Regions from separate parts of the Homo sapiens genome. Here region 1 is linked to region 2. The links come from fine-mapping of genetic effects on gene expression. Tissue or cell type: thyroid. Region 2 holds a variant in brackets; the other region holds the start of a gene. All regions are shown on one strand. Distances are between the middles of the regions.

Evidence for each region. PIP is the estimated chance that this variant, and not a neighbour inherited with it, causes the effect.
Region 1: it holds the start of MDFI, and the variant in region 2 is fine-mapped to the expression of MDFI in thyroid (GTEx, PIP 0.92).

The regions. Positions count from the first base shown.
Region 1 is chr6:41,633,786-41,641,931 of GRCh38, reverse strand. It overlaps MDFI (MyoD family inhibitor), which reads right to left and starts at 3,464. Exons shown (of 5, transcript NM_005586.4): 1 at 3,280-3,464; 2 at 3,107-3,193. The coding sequence starts at 3,182. RefSeq lists enhancers at 811-1,391, 6,685-7,185, 7,186-7,686.
Region 2 is chr6:41,612,196-41,620,381 of GRCh38, reverse strand. No RefSeq gene overlaps it. Among named protein-coding and RNA genes, the nearest start is that of MIR4641, 18 kb to the right of the region's middle. The variant G/CTG (reference allele first, on the strand shown) is at 4,807.

The sequences.
Region 1 (8,146 bases), 22 kb before region 2:
TCACACCCTCAGCAAGGACTCTGTGGGTTCTCTCTGCTTGCCATCCACCAAGTTGAGGGGTGGTCCTGGACCAACAGGGAGTAGGGGGGAACCTCTTTCCGGTGGGATGGTTTCAAGCCTGCACAGTGCCCATGGGAGTTTCAGCCAAAAAATCCCTGGCTGGTGTGGAGAGAGGCCTGTGTTCCAGAGCTCCACGGCCTACTGCCTTAAGTTTAGCCCTCGTCATTGTCTTTGTGGACCGTGGATCTGGGCTTCCCACTTGGAACTCTGACCGTCTCTGGAGAGGGAAGGCCAGAACCTCATATGGTCAGAGAGTGGTGGCTGGAACCCCACACCTCAATCTTTCCTTGGCTTGGCATTCAAGGCCTCAGTCCGGACCTTCAATCTATCAATGTACCAGGATCCTGTGTTCCACGCAGACCGGCCTCCCCATGGTCTGGGCCATTGCCGGATCTTCTGACCAGTCCACCCATGCTTATATTATTCCTGTTGACCAGAAGATCCTACCCCTCCCACTCTCCAAACCCAACTCATCCTGGACCAAGCTCAAACTTCACCTCTTCCTCTAGACAGCTTTCTCTGACCCAGTTGCTAAGAATTTAGCTCCAGTGTTCCCTCTTGTTAATTACAATTTGCTAGTGAAATCCCGGCTTCTCAACCAGACTACAGCCCTCCCAACTCACTCCCTTGGAGTGGTGTCCATATTCATCTCTGCATCCCCAGGGGGCACTCGGCAAATGCCTACTGGGGAGTACTTTCTGGAGTTTGGAATGCCCCTGTCAGGGGAAGGAGAAAGAGAAAGAAATGAAGACTAGGGGTGGCACCTGGACCTGAACCCCAAGAAAGTCAGAGAGGGTGGACTCCTTTGATGCACACATGGTTGATGCGAATCCAATGGTCACACTCCCAGGCCACCAAGCTGAAAACTAAAGAGGGCCTGAGCTGGCCAGTTAGTCTGGGACAAGTTGGTTTTATTTTAGGTCTGAAGGTTCCAAATCCCCAGGAAATTCAATTTAGAACCATGAACAGGAATGTGACGCCCCAATGCTGGGCAAAAATGTGCCTGTGGGCTAGGGAGCCAGGCTCCCGGGGCTCTCAGGGGTGGGTGGGGAGGAGGCCACTAGGAGAGCCAAGGGTGTGGGGGCTTGGCCACCTGCCCCTACCAGATCTGCCCTGAGTCCCCTTGTGCCCTGTCTGCATCTGGGGTGGCTGAGGGAGGAGGCCGACTTGCTCCCTGGCTGTCCTGCCAGCAGAGCCCCTGGGGCAGCGCTGTGGCCTTGCTGTTCTGTCAGCACTCAGGGAGTAAAGCGTGGGGGATTCTGGTCTCAAATTCAGGCATCTGTGGGGTTTTGGCTGGGTCTCCTGCGGTTTGGGCTTCCTGGGCAGCAGGCTCATTCTCCCAAGGCGGTGGCAGAGCGAAGCCTTGAGTTATGAAAGCCGCATTGTCTGGCCCAGCCCAGGCTGGGGAGGGGGTCTGCTGGGGTGCTGGGGGGCCTCAAGTTACAGCCCAGAGCTTAACCCTCCCAGTTGCCCACGCTGGCCCCGGTTGTGTGCAGTTAGCCCTCTCCTCTTGCTGCTGGAGCTGAGAATGGCTTCAACAAGGAAGGGGATCTTGGAAGGAGGTAGTGGAGGGAGAGCAGAGAAAATGGATAAGGGGAGGGAGAAAGCTGGAGAGAGTAAGAGGATGGGAGAGCAGGAGGCTGAGGAAGGGAGGAGGCAGGAAGGAGGCCCAGCGGGACAGGGAAGGTTCCCAGACACAGAGAAGGACCCTTCCAAGTGCCCTGCCCCCAGCTGTCCCTCCGGGCTGAAGGAGTCCAATTCTTGGAGGCGCTCATCCTGCAGAAGGCCCCGTTGCAGGGGCCCCACAGAGACAGCAGGCAATTTGAGGCTTGGCCAAGATGGGCTGTAGACACACTGGCCTCATCTATGTGCTGGCTGTTGGCCAGACATCTTCCACTTGTCCTCACTCTGGTTTAGAGGACCCCCCACCTCCACAACTAGGCGTCCATACCAAGTAGGTGGGGAGTGGAGAGGGGCCTCCTAGAACAGGCAGGCAGGCCGGCTTCGAGGGCGCATGTGGAGGCTCAGGCCAGAGAAGGGAAGGAGCTTGTCCAAGGCAAGGCAGGGAGTTCGTGTCAGAGGTTCAGGAACAGACCTTCATTATTCAGAGTCAAAGAGGGGAAAGGGGGAATGGCGCTGGTGGGGAGGAAGGCAACGACTTAGACAGTGGAGATTCCAATTATGAAATCCGGGTCCACACTCCTGCACGCGGTTCCCCTGGCCCTGAACACATCCCAGAGGTTCCTGACTTCTCCTTGACCCGGACTTCCATTTGGGAGCTTCGGCTTAGGCATCTGGCCAGTGAGGGGAAGGGACTGAGAACCAGGGCCGGCGAGGCCCCTACTCCAAACCCCTTCAGGGAGTCACAAACCGTACTTGGCGTGAGAGGCTCCCCCAGGAATCGCGGGTAGGTTACAGACGGCGCCAGGCGCGGGACGGGGCATTTCACTTGGGCTGAAGACACTGGGTTGGGGTGCGTGTGTGTGCACAGGGCAGGGGCGGCGGGGACTGGCCGGCACGAGAGGGAAGGAAGGCGAGGGAGAAGGGATGGCAAGAAAGAGGGGAGGGGCTGGGTCCTGCAGCCGCTCGCGGCAGACAAAAGTTTTCGGGAAGCGCTGGGCTCTGGTTGGGCTGGGGGAAGGGAAGTAGAGAAAGATTCAGACAACGCCCCCTCCCCCACACCAGGCCCCCACAAATATTTACACACTGGGCAGAAACAGTTGAGACACAAATCCCAGACGGACAGACACCGCGGAGTGTATGTGTGTGTGTTTGTGTGTGTGTGTGTGTGTGTCTGGTGTCGGGAGTTGCGGGGAGTTGGAGCCAACTTGGCGCAGCCGCAGCCTCTGTTCAGGGCCCTGCCTCCCTCGCCCAGCCCCCTACTCTCCTTGGACCAAGTCCTCAAACCCAGACTTTTCGTCCCTACCCCCACCAAGCTCCCTGGAACGGTCTCCCCGCGTCTGGGGACGGAGAGGAGAACTAATAACTGGCCCCTTCAGCCGCCCACCCGCCCCTGTCCAGCTTCGCTCGCCACTCCCGGTCCTACCTGGGCCCGGGGCTGCGCTGGGGGCTCCATAGGGCGCGTCGCAGCCAGAGGGGCGCTGGCCGCTCACCTGGTACATCGGCCCCGGACCTGCGGAAAACAGGGCTCAGCGGGCGGCGCCGGAGGCGGGCAAGGGGCGATTCCCCCGCAGATGCGCGCCTCCCACGTCCACTCACTCGTGCGAGCCGTGCTACGCTCTCTTCCAGCCGGATCCCCGCGCGGGGCCCGCCATGCGCGCCTGCTCCGGGCGCCCCTGCCCAGGTCCCGCTGGCTCCCGGGTGCTCGCCTGGCGCCCCTTCCCCTCTCACTCGCTGCTTTCTCCCATTTCGGCGCCAGCTCACGCCGTTCGCCCCTTCCTTCTTCCTTCTCTCCCTCCAGCCCCCCTCGCTCCTCCCCTACTCGCCTCTCCCCTCCCCTCTTCCCTGGCCCACCCTCTCCCCGCCCCCTCCTCGCCTTCTCAGTCGCCCCTCTGCGGGTCCCCTCCCCCGCGCCGGGCTTGGCCCAGCCAGGAGCCGGACACGTCTGTCCGCGGGGCGCCCGAGGCCCGAGCCCCCACAGGAAGCCGGCTGGGCGCGCTTCCTCCGCGCTCTCGGAGCGGGGCCTCAGTCTCCCCGACTCCCTGCTCTCTGAGGCCCGGAGATCCGCGGGCTGCACGTTTTCCTTTGCCTGTCCAAACTCTGCAAAAGTTTCTGGAAAATCAGGAGAAAGAGAGAAACCTCAACCACTTCGTGGAACTGTCTGAATAATTGCGGCCTCCAAATCTCTTTGCCCCAAAGATGGGCGCGATCAAGTTTCTCAGTCACGTTTTACCCACCCCCTCGGTCTCCTCCCGGGGTCCTAAGCCAGGGACAGGGATCTGGGCTCCCAGGCCACCCGCCCACAGCGCCAGAGTTGTCTGTCCGGGAAATCCGGTTAGTGACCAACCAGCCTGCCCTGTGCCGCAGCAGCCCAGAGCATCCTCGACCCTCCTGCCCCTACCAGCTGTGCGTGGGAATGTGTGTCAGAAAACCGACTTTGGGGGCAAAGAGAGGTCCTCCGAATTCAGCCCTTCTTTGGGATCCAGACTGAATCCGAGGGCTTCTAAGATGAGGGTTCGGGGAGAAAGGGGAGGGAGGGAGCCTCTCCCGGTGGGGCCAGCCGGGCGGCGCGTCTGGATGGTGAGCCGTGGTGGTAGGAAGAAGCCGCTGCCAGGCAGTCCAAGAGGGTTCAGGGGCCCTCAGCGCGACCCCGGAACCTGGTCCCCGAGAATGGGGAAGACTTTGGAGCCTGCGGCTCTCCAGGTGGGGCTGGGCGGGCCCGTGGGATGATGCTCAGGTGGGGCAGCCCCCTGGGGTGACAGCGTCTCGGCCGTACTTGTCTAGGGCCGCCTAGGAGCCGCGTCTGGGCTCCCCGCCACGAGGGCCAGTGAGCACACTGGAAGGCAGCGGCGGCACCAGGCCACCTTTTCTAGTCCCGAGTCCAGCCGGGTCTGGAAGTGGAGAGCTGGGACGCAGGAGGCCGGGCGTCCCAGCTCCCCACTTCTTGGACTCTCCTAGCCCCCATAGTCGCTACTTACGGCTATCGCAGGTCCTGGGGCGCCGTCGGGGCCAGGACCGGGATGGCCCCCACGGCGCCGGCAGCGCTCTCGGCACCCGCGGCCACGTCCCAGCGATGGGCTGGGGTGGTTGCGGCCCGGAGGAAGGTGGGGCGGGACAAGAAGAGAGTGTTCCGCCCCCCAGGCCGGGCTGCTAGCCGCGGGGGTCTGTCCTAGTGCCCCAGGAGCCGGCCGGGATCCGGCTGCTGTCCGGGAGCTCTGGAGAGCTGAGCCAACTCCCGCTTCCTGGCACGGGCTGAGTCACCCGGACGGGACGCGCCCGCGCCTGGGCCTGGCGGCTGCTGCATTCTTACCTGCTTACCTGGGCGCGCACGCTGGGCCTCACCCACCTCCGAAGGCAATCCTCACCGTCTCTCTCCGTTTCCTCCCGCGTATAGGGCCCCCTCCCGAACCCCAGACCTCAGTGCTGCACCCCTCCCCCTGCTTTCTCGTCTCAATCCAGGGCCCCTAAACTCTGCATCAGCTCAGTCCCGGAGCCTTACTATTCCAAGTCGCCTGCTTGATCTCAAAAGTCCTCTGAATCTGGCCCAGTACTAATGTCTGTTTTGTTGGAAATGTAAATTATGCTTTAAATTTAATCACGCATGCTGGTTATACAGGTGTGCTCATTTTGTAAGGATGCAGCAAGCTGAACATTTATGATGCAGGCACTTGTTTGTATGACTATTATACTTGAATAAAAAGTTTTTAAAAATCAACACATTAAAATCAACATTCCAGTTCAGAGCATGATAGGATATGATGGCCAGGCTGGAGGCCTGGCATGGGAGCCCAGTTTCCAGACCCACCATCTACTATATTTCTTTGGGGAAATCCCTTTGCCTCTCAGCCTCAGGAGGGATGAGCACTGGGGCCCAGGACCAGGACTGGGGTGAGGTAAGTGAGACACTCACCTGGTGTGCAAGATTTCGGGGATGCCAAGATAAGGAATTTTTTTTTTGGAGGCAGGATTTTGCTCTGTCCGCCAGGCTGGAGTGTGGTGGTGAGATCTCAGCTCATTACAATCTCCACTTCCCAAGTTAAAGCAGCTGGGACTACAGGTGCTTGCCACCACACCTGGCTAATTTTTTTTAGTAGAGACGGGGTTTTACCGTGTTGGCCAGGCTGGTCTGGAACTCCTGACCTCAAGTGATCTGCCTGCCTTGGCCTCTCAAAGTGCTGAGATTACAGGCATGAGCCACCGTGCCCAGACTGATGAGGAATATTTTAAGGCAATATTTTAATATACCAAATGGGCAAACTACAGTTCTTTGGGCCAGCTGCCTTGTTTTTTTTAAATAAAGTTGTATTGGAAACAGGACCAGGATTAAGGTAATTAATCACGCAAGTTCAGGGTCAGATCCTGTCTTTATCTAAAATGTTGGCATTTTGTTTATCATAGACTTTTTGGCATTAATTTGGATTTTTATACATATTGCAGGAAAATATTGTTTTATCTTAATTACTGAGTTTTTTGATGCCCCCTTAAGTTTTGAACCTGAGCCAAGTGCCTCATTCACTCCAGGTTTCACATGCCTCACCCTAGACCCGGCCCTGTTATTGTCTCTTCCTGAAGGACCTGTCCAGGAAGCCAGGGTAAATGAGGGGAGATCAAAGGTGTTCCCCCACCCAACACTGTCACACACACACATATGCACAGCACCAAGTGGGCTCTGCACCCAAGCCCAGGCCCAGCTTCCCCGGGGCCCACCGATCAGTTCAGAATAAAGCGCAAAGTCCCTCAGTCTCCATGAACTGGGCCCCACCTGCCTTGGCCCTCATCTCCCCTTACTTATTCCCTGCCAGCCATGCTACTTCCTTTTCTCGGTTAATTTGCCAGGCACCTTCTCGCCTCAGGGCCTTTGCCCTTGCTCTTTCCTCTGCCCAGAATGTGCATCCCCTAGATACCCACATTGGCCCTTTCCTCGTTTCTTCTGCTTATGTCAGCTTCTAAGAGAGGCCGTCCCAGACTTCTCACTCTCTGCCCCCAACACCATTTTATTATTCTACCCAGACTTTTTCAGCACTTGGCCTATTCTATATTTGCTCATCTGTTGGTAGAGTGAAAGGCCCTGAGAGCAGGGACTGGCTTGTCTACTAGTGTATTCCCTAGAGATGTGTCTGCCACAGAGAGTGCAATACATTTTCCAATTTCAGAGGTTGGAAAACAGAGGCCAGAGAGGGGAAAGAGCTAATGCAAGTCATGTAGTGAGTTAGTGGCAAAACCTTACCAAATCCCAACTTTCCAGACTCCCACCTCAGTATTCTTTCCTGCCTTCCAGGGCTTATTCCCCACTCTCCACCCCAGAGCCTTCCAGGCAACAAAGGGGACAGAACTGCCTTGCACGGGCTCTGCCCCTCACAATACCCTTCAAAGTGGAGCAGGCCAGCTCACAACTCCTCCCTTGCAGTTCATTCCGCAAGACCACAAGGTCTGGCCCAGCTCCAGCCTCTGGCGCCCACCCCTCCTTGGTGGCCAGCAGAACGCACAGCTCTTCCCCCACTTCCTGTCTCTGGCAGAGGGCCAGTCTGCTGGGCTGGCTTCTGCAGCTGGACCACAACTGTGGTCTCAGTGCCTGGAGAATGGGGTCAGGACACTGGGAGAATGGGACCCTCCCGGAAGAGGGATGCATAAATTGGGGCGTGTTTGTGTGGGGTGAGGAGAAGCTGCTGGGTGGGGATTGAGAGCCCCCAGCTCTTTCTTTCTACCCCCATCTCGGATGGGCACTGAGCAGAGAATGGGGCTCTAACCCTCCCCCTTCCTGAAGAAAAGAATGTGCAGTAGGATGAAGGGTGCTCTGGGCCCCATGCCTGATTCTAGCCCTCCCTGCTACCCCTGGTGATGGAGGATGACGGTGGCGTGTCAATTTCAGCGGTCATGTGTTGAGCGTGTTCTATATGACGAGCCTTTGCCAGATACTTCTAGATTTGTTATTTCCTTTAATGCCTACAACAGTCAGCATAGTTATTAACCCCATTTTACAGATGAGGCAACTGAGGTACAATGAAGTGATGTGAAGAGACTTACCCACTAGTAATGGGTGGAGCTGGGACTTGGACCATGTTTTCTGAAGCCAAACACAGCACTCACCCCAATCCCAGGCATGGCCTTCAGCGTGTAGAAAGGACTGTGATGTTCTCTTTCATGTGCTGCCCCCCTCCCCAAGCTAGTTGCTGAAGATAGGGACATGGCCCTCTGCATCCCTCCTCTGTCTCATTGTGTTGGGGTACCAGGAACTTGGCAGGGTATATAGGAAGAATGGGGCTTGGATCTGTGTCATGGAGACCAAATTTGCATCCTGGCTCAATCACTTCTACCACCCTATGTGATTTTGAGCAAATCACTTGAACTCTCCAAGCCTTTAGTTCTCCTGTTTAAACGTGGCAAAGGCGTTGGCTGTCAGCAAATGGGAACTCTTGCCCACCACGTCCCTCCCCAGGGGAGGGAAGCTTCAAAGGGCAACATTTCT
Region 2 (8,186 bases):
TATCTTTAAAGTACCAAAAGAAAAAATAAATTGTCAAGCTAGGTTTCTATACTCAGTGAAAACACCTTTCAAAAATGGGCTGGGCACGGTGGCTGATGCTAATCCCAGCACTTCGGAAGGTGGAGGTGGGAGGATCACTTGAACCCAGGACTTTGAGATAAGGCAACATAGTGAGGCCCTGTTTCTATTAAATATATATAGGAGGACTAACACTAACTGATTTCAAGACTTACCATAAAATTACAGTGTGATATTCATGTACAGACAAATAATTAACTGGTATTCACCAATTATAATTTGTATTTTTTCCTTTTCAATTGTAATAGATAATGCTGAATATTTTAAAATAAAAAATTTATATTTTAAAGTAAATGATTCTAATTTTTGATTTTATTACATTTACTTTAAATGCATTCATAATAATACATTTAAATGTATATTTTGAACACAATTATTTTATTTTTAATCTTTATATTATTACTATTAATAAATTACGTGAAAATCTTGATTATAAAAACATACCTGATTTTACTGAAATGAAAGCATGAAAAAGAAATGTTACAGAAGACAATATTATACCTCATGAATCACAGATGTTTTATTGATTTTTCATCCAAACATTGACAGCCCAACAAGAGGACCCACAGACATGCAGTATTAATTAAATTCGGTGATTTTAGTCTCGGAGCCGTGGCTTATACCTGTAATCCCAGCACTTTGGGAGACCAAGGCAGGAAGATCACTTGAGGCCAGGTGTTTGAGACCAGCCTGGCCAACATGATAAAATCCCATCTCTGTTAAAAATACAAAAATTAGCCAGGTGTTGGGGCACATGCCTATAGTCCCAGCTACTTGGGAGGCTGAGGCACGAGAATCTCTTGAACCGGGGAGGCAGAGGTTGCAGTGAGCTGAGATCACACCACTGTACTCCAGCCTGGCACAACAGAGTGAGACCCTGTCTCGATAAATAAATAAATAAATAAATAAATAAATAAATAAATAAATAAATAAATTCAATTACTGTTATATTTTGCTATCTTTTATCATATGAAAACCTAGCTCTGCAGGTGCATGTGCACACACACACGTATTTTTTGGTTACTAGGAAGATATGTTTGCCAGCTAGGAAGCTGGGACATAGTTTATGTAATGGGTGGACAGCTTTATTTGTAACCCTTAACTATCAAGACGCCTCCTTTGGGAGGCTCCTTTGCACTCTTGCCCTGGGCTGCAAATGTGAGGGGTGGGGTGTGCCCGGCAGGTGATAGACCCAGGACTTTACCCATGTGTTCTGGCCCCAGGACCCACTGCACCACCCTCCATGGGAAGAGAGAGTGGGGAGAGTGTTTGGGGAGAGTACAGCATGGAGAAGTTTCTGGAAGAGGCTTGCAAATATGCCACAAAAGCTCTGTGGGGCTGGAATTTAATATTGAGGAGGAAATGTTTGATGGGTGAGGGTGGTAAAGAGGACAGATTAAGGGTGTGAGGTCTGCGGGTATTGACTATTTCTCTGGGGACAAAGGGGTGTTATCAGAAGACAGCTTGTAGCCTGGAGCTGAGCAGCCCTTGGGCTCTGATGCCTGTGTTGAAGTGGCTCTCTTTATTTAGCTAACTCCCTACTGCCTTCAGGAATGGAAAGCCAGTGTCACTTGGCAATCTTAAAAATGCATGCTGGGGAAACAAAGCAAGGTGCTACATTTTAATACTTTTGCTGCCAGATGCTGCTAAATTCTGACCCAGCGATTCACTGGTGCTTGAGAGCCGTTGCAGATAGGCTGCACTAGGCTGAGATGATTCTCTTTGATGGTGTCAGAAGAATTGAAAGAGAATTCAAAATGCAAATTTGCTGCTTCCCAAGGTCCACCAAATCATCTTCAGGACCCCAGTGGTACAGTCAGCGTGGTCTGGGAAAGTCTGGGAGAGGGTGCTAGTCCAGTTGGGCAAGCCAGGCTTCCACCACTTGTCCAAACTTACATGCCGGGTATGCTGTTTTCAAAGACAGCCACAATTTCTCCTCTCCCTAGGTCGTGTCACTCCTCCTACCAGGAGGTAGAGGCTGTTTCCCCTCCCCTTGATTCTGGGCTGGCCTTGGAACTGGCTTTGACCAACAGAACGCACCAAAAGTGTTGCAGTGTCAGTTCCAGCCTGGGCTTTAAGAGGCCTGGCTGCTTCTGCCTGTATTCTCTTGGAGCCTTGGGCCACCATACAAGAAGTCAGTCCACCCTGCTCGAGAAAGAAGGTCAGCCAGCCTCCACCCCTTCCAGCCACCCCAGCTGAATGGCCAGCTGAATGCAAACAAATGAGCAATGCCAGCCAAAACATAATGGGTAGCTGCTGTTTTTTTGTTTTTGTTTTTGTTTTTTTAGATGGAGTCTCGCTCTGTCATCCAGGCTGGAGTGCAGTGGCGCTATCTCGGCTTACTGCAGCCTCCGCCTCCCGGGTTCAAGGGATTCTCCTGCTTCAGCCTACTGAGTAGCTGGGATTACAGGCACCCGCCACCACGCCCGGCTAATTTTTGTATTTTTAGTAGAGACGGGGTTTCATCATGTTGGCCAGGCTGGTCTCGAACTCCTGGCCTCAGGTGATCCTCTCAACTTGTCCTCCCAAAGTGCTGGGATTACAAGCGTGAGCCACCACGCCCAGCCTAGCTGCTGTTTTTTTTTTTTTCTACTAACTTGTCATTTACTACAATGGCATTTTAAATGGGGTTCCTAATATATTGGGCTGAAATTTTTAAATGAACATGTAAAGATTCATAGGTAATATGCTGTTTGGTTTACTTGAGTGTAGCTTTCATATTTAAAGTTGATATAAAATAAATTGTGTTTACAGTGGCATTTAAAATGGGGTTCCTAATATATTGGGCTGAAATTTTTATTTTATTTATTTATTTATTTAGAGATGGAACCTCACTCTGTCACCCAGGCTGGAGTGCAGTGGGGTGATCTTAGCTCACTGCAACCTCCACCTCCCAGCTTCAAGCAATTCTCGTGCTTCAGCCTCCTGAGTAGCTGGGAATATAGGTGTGCGCCATACTCAGCCAATTTTTTTTGTATTTTTAGTAAAGACAGGGTTTCACCATGTTGGCCAGGCTGGTCTCGAACTCCTGACCTCAGGTGATCTGCCCACCTCAGTCCTCCAAAGTGCTGGGATTACAGGCATGAGCCACTGCACCTGGCCTGAATTTTTTTTTTTTTTTTTTATTGTTCATTCTTGGGTGTTTCTCGCAGAGGGGGATTTGGCAGGGTCATAGGACAATAGTGGAGGGAAGGTCAGCAGATAAACAAGTGAACAAAGGTCTCTGGTTTTCCTAGGCAGAGGACCCTGCAGCCTTCCGCAGTGTTTGTGTCCCTGGGTACTTGAGATTAGGGAGTGGTGATGACTCTTGACGAGCATGCTGCCTTCAAGCATCTGTTTAACAAAGCACATCTTGCACCGCCCTTAATCCATTTAACCCTGAGTGGACACAGCACATGTTTCAGAGAGCACAGGGTTGGGGTTAAGGTCACAGATCAACAGGATAAGAATTTTTCTTAGTACAGAGCAAAATGAAAAGTCTCCCATGTCTACCTCTCTCTACACAGACACGGCAACCATCCGATTTCTCAATCTTTTCCCCACCTTTCCCCCCTTTCTACTCCACAAAACCGCCATTGTCATCATGGCCCGTTCTCAATGAGCTGCTGGGTACACCTCCCAGACGGGGTGGTGGCCGGGCAGAGGGGCTCCTCACTTCCCAGTAGGGGCGGCCGGGCAGAGGCGCCCCTCACCTCCCCGGGTGGGGCGGCTGGCCGGGCGGGGGGCTGTCCCCCCCACCTCCCTCCCGGACGGGGCGGCTGGCCGGGCAGAGGGGCTCCTCACTTCCCAGTAGGGGCGGCCGGGCAGAGGCGCCCCTCACCTCCCGGACGGGGCGGCTGGCCGGGCCGGGGGCTGACCCCCCCACCTCCCTCCCAGACGGGGCGGCTGGCCGGGGCTGACCCCCCCACCTCCTTCCCGGACGAGGCGGCTGGCTGGGCAGAGGGGCTCCTCACTTCCCGGTAGGGGCGGCCGGGCAGAGGCGCCCCTCACCTCCCGGACAGGTCGGCTCTAGCTGCTGTTTTAAGTCACCACATTTGAAAGTGATTTTTGCACTTTGTAGAGCTTTCCAAGTGTTATTTTTTTACAACACAATGTTCCCCACAACATTCCTATGAGAGTGTTATCTTTTTTTAATATGAAAATTTTATAATAAAATTATTTTAAACATCCCCCGCCCCGGCCATTTGCTAAATTAAATCCATTGACTCATTCTGCTCTAAAAATAAGGGAGACTGTTTGATATGATCATATAAAATTGGTCACGTTCTTGTTTGAAGTTTGAGGAGTTTTTGGCGTAGAAACTGCACAAATAAACATTTCTTTGTTGTAGTTTTTAAATTTTAGTTGACATGTAATAATTGTACATATTTACTGGATACAGAGTGATATTTTGATACATGCATATGATGTGTAGTGATCAAATCAGAATAATTAGCATATCCATCATCTCAATCATTTATCATTTATTTGTGTTATGAGAGTGTTATCTCCAGCTCCACTTTACAGATGAGAAAACCAAGGCTCAGAAGGGTAACCGCTGGATTCCATGAGCTGAGGGATCACGTCAGACTCCCTTTGGGGAAAGCGTCATCTGCTTCCTTTCTCTTGAACTCTCGGCTCCCCTCAGCCTTTTCTGTCTCAGACTCAGGCATCCCGCCCAACATGCTTCTTGGGTCACCAAGCTGACCCTGAAATCCCTCCTCCCTCTGGATTAGCTGGACGCTCTCT[G/CTG]GTGGGTGAGAGGGGAGGGATAAGTTTGACTGTTCAGCATGCTAATATGTCCCCAAGCAAGTCAAGCAGGGTGTCCTCGCTAAGCCACACTGGGACTCCGAGTTGAGCTATATGCAGAACTGGTTGACTAGGGGCCCCTCTGGGCATCTTTTTGCATGAATTTACCAGTGTGCTGGCGGGCATTCCTTCGGAGGCCTCAGAAGAAAAGGGAAGTTTCTGGAGCAGTTGCCTGGGACAGAGGTTCAGATGGAAGGGAAGGCATGAATACAACAGAGGGTGTGGTAGAATCTGAAGTGTCGTTCAATCTCTGGTCCATACTTCCCCGGAAATGTTGGAACACTGAAAGCAGCATTGTTCAAAACTTCCTTTCCATAAGGATTTAGGTAGATAATGTCATACCTTTGGTGGTGTTTGGAAGGCAGAAGCAAAGCAGAGGCCACTTTCTTGCCCCTTTCGCAGCTTTTGTTCCCAGGTGAGGTGGTGGAGATGTGAAGTGTTTCTGCAACAACATTCCAGGATCCATTCTGGAGTTTGCTGGGTGTTGACAGGAGGGTTTGGGGCAGCAGTAGCAGCTTCCTGAGCCCTGGATTGCAGCCATGGGGTGTGTTCTTAAACTTTTAGCTCCAGTGGGGCCTCAGAGGGAGGAGTCCCCTGGTGGGCCCCAGGTGGCTACCTCCTCTTCTGTGGAATGCTGTTCTCTTGAGAGGCTTGGGCGATGTTACACAATTCCGTTAGGAGCCACCTGAGCCTCTCTAATACCTCCTCCTTCTGGATGGCTTCATCTTCCCTCCTCTTGTTCTCTCTGTTCTCTCTCTTTAAGTCCTCTCCCCAAGAGAGCTGCTTGTCTAACTCACCACCTGAGCATTGGGGAACATGTCATTTCTACTCTGTGGGCCTCAGTTTTCTAACCTGTAAAATGATAGGGTTGCAATGAAAGTTCTCTTCTAGCTTGAACCTGCAATGATTCATTCCACAAATGTGTAATTGCAGTCCGCCAGGTTCTGGGCTAGGTGGTGGGCCACAGGATGAAGGGGTCTGGTCCCTGTCCTAGTGGCTCTCACCTTCTGGAGGACACACAGATGAGTAAGCACGGAATGACAACCCAGAGAGCTCCGGACCGGGTTGAGAGCATCATCAGTTGGTTCCACTGAGCTTACTAAGAAAGGCAGGAGCATCCTGACTGCCCCTGCCTCTCCTGCCTGCTCCCTAGACACAGCCACTTTCAGTTCTTCTAGAGGATTCTTTTGATTTTCAGCATCATATGGGTTGAAAAGAGACTTGCATTGCTACTTTTTGATTTTTCAGTTTCAGGTACTCATTAAGCCCACACTCCATGAGACGTGGATTCAATCCCTTTCACCCGCTCACCCCCTTGTAACCTTCCCCCAGCAATCCCTGCCTGTCTCCCCTACTCCCAATACGGTTACACCATCCTTTTGGTTAAATTAGGATTCTGTGTTTTCATTATTAAGACTAACTGTCATGTACAGCTAAACCACATAGTATGTTATTATTACTTTTCCTTCAACATTTTGCTTAGTTCTCTTTATTATCATATTAGGGATTCAACCCCAAATCGTCCCCATAGTACACTAGATCTCACCAGTGTGTTCACATGTCAGGCATTCTGTGAGTTTCATCTTCTGCGGGAACTCCCTTCCAGAGCCTTTGCCTTCTTTGTTCTGGCCTCGTAGCTCTTTCCTCCCGGGTTGGGGTCCTCTAACCTCTTCCTTATGCCCATCCTCTGCTTCCCTTTTCTTGTTTTTGGTGGAACACATCCTTCACCCCCCTATTGTGAGAAGTGGTGAGTGGAGCTGCATTTTGGGAATTTGCATGTCTCAACATGTTTTTATCCTGCACTTAATTAATAGTTTGGCAGAGCATGGCATTTTAGCTTGGAAACAATTTTCTCTTAGAGCTTCAAAGGCAATGTTCCATTATTTTCTATGACAGTGTTGTACATTCCAATACTGTTTTTAATGTGCTCCAGGTGTTTGTAGGATCGTCTCTTGTCTGCCATGTTCTGAATTCCTTGATGATGTGCTTTGGTGAAGGTACATTTTTACACACACTTTGACCCATTCAGTTAGACAAGATAGAAACTCATGTTGATCAATTCTGGGGCATGGTTTTAAGTTACTTAGGAGTTTTCTCTTTCCTGATTCTCTCTTTATAGGCCTCCTATTATTTAGATGTTGGACCTCCTGAACTGGTCCTCTAATTTTATTTTTTCTCTTCTGTTTCCGTTTGCTGCTGTTTTATTTGCTGTACTTTGTGGAAAATCTCTTTGACTTCCAGCCTTCCTGCTGTAGTTTTCATTTCTGCTATCATATTTTTAATTTCTTTTTTTTTTTTTTTTTTTTTTTTTGAGACGGAGTCTCGCTCTGTCGCCCAGGTCGGACTGCGGACTGCAGTGGCGCAATCTCGGCTCACTGCAAGCTCCGCTTCCCGGGTTCACGCCATTCTCCTGCCTCAGCCTCCCGAGTAGCTGGGACTACAGGCGCCCGCCACCGCGCCCGGCTAATTTTTTGTATTTTTAGTAGAGACGGGGTTTCACCTTGTTAGCCAGGAAGGTCTCGATCTCCTGACCTCATGATCCACCCGCCTCGGCCTCCCAAAGTGCTGGGATTACAGGCGTGAGCCACCGCGCCCGGCCCATATTTTTAATTTCTAAGACCTCATTTTGTTCTTGGAATGTTCATTTTTGTAACTTCATCTTATTTCATGAATGCGATATCACATCTCCTTAAGAATAAGTGATTTTTAAGTTTTCCTCTATCTGCTTAGTAATATCCTCTGTGTTGCTTTTTGTCTGTTTTTATTTCTGTTTTTCATATTAGGTGTTCTACTCATATCTCTGTTGGTCCTTGCATTTTTATTGAAGAATAGGATTCTAAAAGCTCTGTGTCTGCGAGTGGGCCTTGCTGACCTGACCTTTGGGAACCCTTGATGTCTATGGCTCTCAATCCCCCTGGAGTGTCCCTGCTTCAACCACATCAGTATCTCCCAGCCCAAAGACCCTCTACCCCTCCAGAATATTCATCTCCCATCATCTGCCATGGTATGGGGAGGAGAAGAGGCCTGCCTGTACGGAGTGGCAGAGTGGGGTAGGGGGTCTGGAGGACTCACTACTCCCTAAACTGACTTTCAACCAGTTTGCCTGATTTTTCTTTTTTTCTTTTAAAAAAAAATAGGCTTGTCAGAGCATGGTGGCTCACGCCTGTAATCCCAGCACTTTGGCAGGCCGAGGCAGGTGGATCACCTGAGGTCAGGAGTTTGAGACCAGCCTGACCAACATGGTGAAACCCCGTCTCTACCAAAAATACAAACATCAGCTGGGCGCGGTGGTGCATGCCTGTAATCCCAGCTACTTGGGAGGC